2 separate regions of the Homo sapiens genome follow, and region 2 is linked to region 1. The links come from fine-mapping of genetic effects on gene expression. A gene starts in region 1. The other region holds a variant in brackets. All regions are shown on one strand. Distances are between the middles of the regions.

Region 1 (2,902 bases):
ATCCTTTCTCTAAGCATTTCGAGATATCCTGCAAGGCACGTTGCCATTTGCTTATTTACTTAGCCTACCTTAGGAACACCAGAACTTTCCTTACTTAATCTAGAACTTTAAGAATGTTATGGAAGGCCGGGCACGGTGGCTCACGCCTGTAATCCCAGCACTTTGGGATGCTGAGGCGGGAGGATCACGAGGTCAGGAGATCGGGACCATCCTTGCTAATACGGTGAAACCCCATCTCTACTAAAAATACAAAAATAAATTAGCCGGGCGTGGTGGCGGGTGCCTGTAGTCCCAGCTACTCAGGAGGCTGAGGCAGGAGAATGGCGTGAACTCTGGAGGCGGAGTTTGCAGTGAGTGGAGATCGCGCCACTGCACTCCAGCCTGAGCAACAGAGCGAGACTCCGTCTCAAAAAAAAAAAAAAAAAAAAAAAAAAAAAAGGAAAAAGAAAAAGGATGGTATGGAAGTGGTAGGGGAGGTGTCCAGGAATTAGATCCCTACTCGCGGGGAAGAGAAAAGGTCAGGGATGGGAGGGGGCATCTCCGCGGAGCCCACTTCCCCTGGGAGTCACACATCATACCTTGTCGGACTGGGGACTGATCGGGGTGCCATATCTGCAGTAGGTCACGAAGTGCTCGCAGTTGTTCCACAGCAGGCTGTAGGGGGTAAAGCCCAGCAGCTTTTCAGCCCTCCGCGCCACCTCCTCGTTGAGCAGTGCCTTTTTCTGGAGGGACTCGTCCAGGTGATTGACCAGGATGTTAGCTCCGTAGGCGAAGTCCTCCACTGTGTCCACGCGGATGCTGGCCACTTTGACAATAACGCCCAGGATGAGACGCTTGTTGGAGACCACCTTCTGCGTGCGCCCCATGTCGTCTGTCAGGGCCAACAGGATGTCGGGCATCATGTGGGCAACACGGTTGTCTCCTAGGTAGATGCCATAGTGGGTCAGGTGGGTCCGGGGCACCTCCAGCACGTCGCCTCGGTGGAAAGAGCTGGTTTCATAAAAACTGTTCCTCCCTTTGTCTTCGCCCGCGGCGCCCGAACTAAAGAGCGTGAAGTTGGAGATGAGGAGCAGCTTCTCCAGTAGTAAAGACACCACCTCCAGCATGGGGTTCTTCATCCTGCAGGGAAGAGGGCGTCTTGGAGAGGTGCCGGTGCCACTCCGGCAGGGGCCGGGCTGGGCAAGTTAAGCTCGCCGGGCAGGGGTGCTGCGCTGCTGCTCACCTGCAGGCCAGGTGAGGTACGGCGCAAAGTACGGCCGCTGAGGAGAGAGGAAGGCAAAGGAGGACAGCGAGGCCTGGCGACCGGCTCAGCCAAGCCACAATGGGGAATGAGACGGATAAGGAACCGGTGGCTGACGGCGGGGACAGTGAGACCAGTGCTACAAGCAGCCGGAGAAGGAGCGCACCTGGGGGCCGTGCCGGGGGCAGGGCCGCGCGCGGTGCTCGGAGGTGCAGGCTTCGCTGCGACTTTTTATGGCCGTCGAGGGGGCGGAGCCGAAGGCCGTCACAGACCCGGAAAGCTCACTGATTGGGCGCCGCTGGCGCGCTGCGCTAGCGGCGGGGAGGACGCGGGATCCCGGTTTCTTTGGGAGGGGGGCGGGCCGACTCCCAGCTCCAGGGTTCTGCACAGTGATTCTTTATCGCCGCGGGATCCCGGTTGCACTACTGGCTTTTAAGTGGCCTATTTAGGGAGGTAGAGTCCCAAGGTGTGGCGGCACGAAAGGTCCTGCACCTGTCGGGACTGGGGCGAGTTCCTGGCACTTCGCGGTAGTCTTCGGTGGAAAGTCCTCTTGGGAGAGATTTCTGAGTTGGACCACCTTCCTCTAAAAGGATAGATATGAGGGACTTCGGCTTAATAAAGAGATTGCATTTACTTTGCAAAGTGCGAGCGCCTCGAATGCCTGCAGATTCTTTCCTGACCGAATCTTTCGTTTTGTTTTGTTTTGTTTTGAGACAGTGCCTTGCTCTATCACCCAGAGCAGGAGGGCGGTGGCGCGATCTGGGCTCACTGCAACCTCCGCCTCCCAGGTTCAAGCGATTCTCGTGCCTCAGCCTCCCAAGTAGCTGATATTACAGGCACCACGCCTGGCTAATTTTTGTATTTTTAGTAGACACGGGGTCTCACCATGTTGGCCAGGCTGGTGTTGGCCAGGCTGGTCTCGAACTCCTGACCTCAAGTGATCCGCCCTTCTGGACCTCCCAAACCGCTGGGATTACAGGCGTGAGCCACCGCGCCCAGCCCCTCTTTTTTCAAATGCCCTGAATCCTCCATGCTTTCAGCCGGCGCGAGGGTGTGTGTGTAGGGCGGGGGGGGGGGGGTTGGGGGGGTCGCTACCCGCGAGTCCAGTCCCTGCGCGCCGGTGATTTGAACCCGAGGCCTCTCTGCGCTCCTAGGCACCTGTGGCCGTTGAGTACGAAGCTTCCAACGGTTGGCATGAAAAACGGCGGGGTCCCAACGCCCGCCAGGAAAGCAAGATTCATGTTAAGTTTATTTCTCCGGCTTCAGGGTCACATGGACCCAGCTTCAGTTCACCCACCGAAACTTTGTCCGCCTCCCTTTATTTTTATTTTTATTTTTATTTTTATGTTTTTAAGCATAACCTCCCGGAGACGGCCAAGGAAGGCGAAGTACTTGGATGAGATGCTAAGTTCTTTGCCCGTGCGCCTGCAGCCCGACTCCAATGCCTCCTCGAGGGTGGTCCTAGGGAGCTGCCGGGTGAGGGAGCCGCTGAAGCGTTGGCCGCGCCAGGCTTGGCACGCGATGTCCCCACCGGGTGCTGAGTTCCGTGCTAATGCATTATGTAAATGCTTAAATTCTGCAGACAAAGGCCACAATGGAGAGCCTCGGGTGGCTCCACAAAGCTGCCCAGTCGGCGCTAATAGGTTTCATCAGCAGATTCTA
Region 2 (2,902 bases), 120 kb after region 1:
CCCAGATTCCCTGAAATGAGAAAACCAAGGTTCTGAGAAGTTAAATAAATTGAACAACCAAAATCACATAGCCACTTAGCCCCAGAAATGGGTCCAGAACTAAACACTGGACACAAGCCATCTGAATCTTGTTTCCTGAATCTCAGACCAGGACTTTTCTTCAATAACATGAGGTCATCCTTCTCATGGTAACCGTGATTCATTAGGGGGACTGGAAAAGAATATTAAGACTTTAAACAAAAGGAATAAACTTCAGTAGTAGAATGTCAATGACAGACAATGCTCAAAGGCCCTCAAATCAAATGAAACAGGCAGCCACAGCAACAAGGGAACACCCAAGTATCAAAACACACTTCAACATACAAAAAAGTTTACGGCCCCTCAAAAGAAATGATCTATTCGTTCTATTTTGCTAGATGATTTCTACATACATAAATACCCGAGGCCTGATTACCTTCACTTGGTTTCTTTACCAAATGCCAGAAATGGGGTAGGAGAGGATTTTAGTAAATCAAACTAATGTTTAGGCAGAACAAAGGCACAGGAAAGCCCTAAACCATTTAAGTATTAAAAACTACTTTTAATCGTCCCTACTGCTGCCCTCTAATCCACAACCACCACCAACCTAAGAGGGCTATGATTCCAAGAGCCGACTCTGTTGCAAACCTCCGCTGGACGGTTTTGCGGACTAGGAAGTGAAGATTTCCAGTGGGAGGAAGAGCGAAGAAGAGAAGGAGGTAGATAAGCTAGCGAAAAGAAGGAGGTAGACAAGCTAGCAAAGCGAAGGTGCAGAATAGGAAAGTTACCAGGACAGGGCAGGGAGTTCCTCATGTCCACAGCAGGCCTTGCTCCCCTGGCCGGAGCCCAGGGGAGGGAGACGGAGGAAGGCAGCCACTTTTCCAGTGAGAAGTTGAGCAAGGAGTTGGCACCCGGCCCTCTCTACCTCTAGAGAAAAGGTAAAAGCTAAGCTGGATCGCGTGGTAGAGAAGAGCCCACTTTCAGAGTCCAAGTGGCATTATCTTGGAGTTCAGTGTCTGCCTCCAGGGCTGCAACTAACTCCTCGCGCCTCCCTTGCCGCCTTTCCTCCCTGGAAAGAGGAGGTGAAAAAGGTCCCAGGGCTCGGGTGGGCATGACTGCCTGGCGCAGGCCGCCGGGGGATTACCTGATACCTCCGCGTCTCCCCAGAAGGCGCGGCGCCGCCCTCCAGCCCCACCCGGTCACTCCGCGGTCCCCAGGCTCTGGTGTCTGTCCAATCTCCGGGACTCGACGCCCGAGGCGGCCGCCCGCGAGACCCGGAGCACGA[G/T]CCTCACGCTCAACGTTAGGCACTGCTCAAGGCCGCCCGAGGAGCAGAGACACCTACTGGCCGAGCGCTCCTGCGGCGGCTGGGCTGGGCTGGGGGCCGGAGCCCAGAAAACAGGGCTCCGCACACCCCCTACCGGGCGGGCTCCATCTGCGCCCCAGCCGAGTCCCGGACCCGCGTCTTGGCAGGCTCACCTACCTTGAGGTTCCCAGCTCCTGTCATCCTGTGCGCAAGTGATTTCAGCAACCATCACCACAAAACCTAGTCGGAGGGTGGCTGGCTCACAGCCTCTCCACTTTTTCGGAGTTTGTGCCAAATAATTTAAAGACCCTCCCCACCCTTTTCCAAATTCTGGCGTTTGAGAAGGGAAAATCCAAAGGGATGAGGATATAGGAGCCCCTAAGTGCTCTCCCCAGAAGCCAGGGAATTGTATTTCTGTTTCTCCAGGGCCCTGAAGAACCTGGCTTTCTTGTAATTACAAATACCTTTCACTGAAAAGTGGCTTCTTTCCTCCTGCTCCCTGCCCTGTGACAGTCAGTCCCTCCCTGTTCTGTCCTGGTAACTTTCCTGCTCTGAGCCTTGTTCCTGTGCTAGCTTATCTATCTCTTTTTCTTCTCTTATCCCGCTCTTCCGCCTTTTGGAAATCTTCACTTGCTACTCTGCAAAACCATCGGAGCAAGGCCTGCTGCGGACATCAGGACCACTGCAAATATTTTTTTCCAGGTTCTGAGAGGGATGCAGAAGACGCAGGAGCTGACAGTCTAGTTAATTTTTAGCTGACAAAGTCTCTCTCTCTCTCTCTCTCTCTCTCTCTGTCTCCCTCTCTGTCTCTTTCTCTCTCTTTAACACCTATATTTGAGTAGTTTTGTTTCCATCAGCACTCTTGTCTTTCCTTCTAGTCCTTTAATCCTGACTCTCTTCCTGGATTGAACTTAGGGAGGCAAGAGTTTAAATTAGAAGCAGTAAAATTGTATAATAAAAGGAAGAAGACAAACCAGGCCTTGCTTCTTAACAGGATGACTAATACAGTTTATGGATTATCTGGGTAGTTACATGACTAATATTAACCATTAACAATTATTGAGTTCTTAATGCTGACCAGAAACTGTTTTAAGAGCTTTTTTATAATAATAGTAAAATCAGCTCTTATGTAATGTTTTAAATGTTTACATTTATTAACACATTAGACAAAACAACCCTATAAGATGGGTAATAATATTATTCCCTTTTTACAATTGAGGAAATTGAGACAAAGAAGCAGGAACATTTCCTAAGGTCACACAGCTAGAAGTAAGTTATAAAGCTGGAATTTAAGCCCCGACAGCCTGGTGGATCATTCAGGGTACTCTAGAGGGACAGGACTAATAGGATAGATGTATATATGATGTATATATGAAAGGGAGTTTATTAAGGAGAATTGACTCTCATAATCACAAGGTGAGTCCCACAATAGGCCATCTGCAAGCTGAGGAGCAAGGAAGTCAGTCTGATAAAAGGAAACAGGCACAGAGAGGCTAACTAATAGTCCAGGAACACAGAGCTACTAACTTGTACAGGCAAGATTAGAACAAGTGAGTCTGATCCTTAACTAACCATGGGAGG

Which allele goes with the higher level. Alleles are on the strand shown, and positions count from the first base shown. SD is a standard deviation of normalised expression in the study named.
In carriers of allele G in region 2, the expression in atrial appendage of the gene that starts at base 1,445 in region 1 tends to be lower than with T alone (large effect, 1.1 SD a copy in GTEx).

The links.
Region 2: its variant is fine-mapped to the expression of LRAT in atrial appendage (GTEx, PIP above 0.99). The same link has a PIP of 0.9 or more in gastroesophageal junction, tibial nerve and visceral fat.

The regions. Positions count from the first base shown.
Region 1 is chr4:154,742,543-154,745,444 of GRCh38, reverse strand. It overlaps LRAT (lecithin retinol acyltransferase), which reads right to left and starts at 1,445. Exons shown (of 3, transcript NM_004744.5): 1 at 1,223-1,445; 2 at 579-1,119. The coding sequence starts at 1,118. RefSeq lists enhancers at 2,094-2,606, 2,607-2,902.
Region 2 is chr4:154,625,410-154,628,311 of GRCh38, reverse strand. LOC124900169 (a long non-coding RNA gene) reads right to left here and starts at 1,350. Exons shown (of 6, transcript XR_007058343.1): 1 at 1,163-1,350. RefSeq lists a silencer at 1,394-1,523. The variant G/T (reference allele first, on the strand shown) is at 1,304.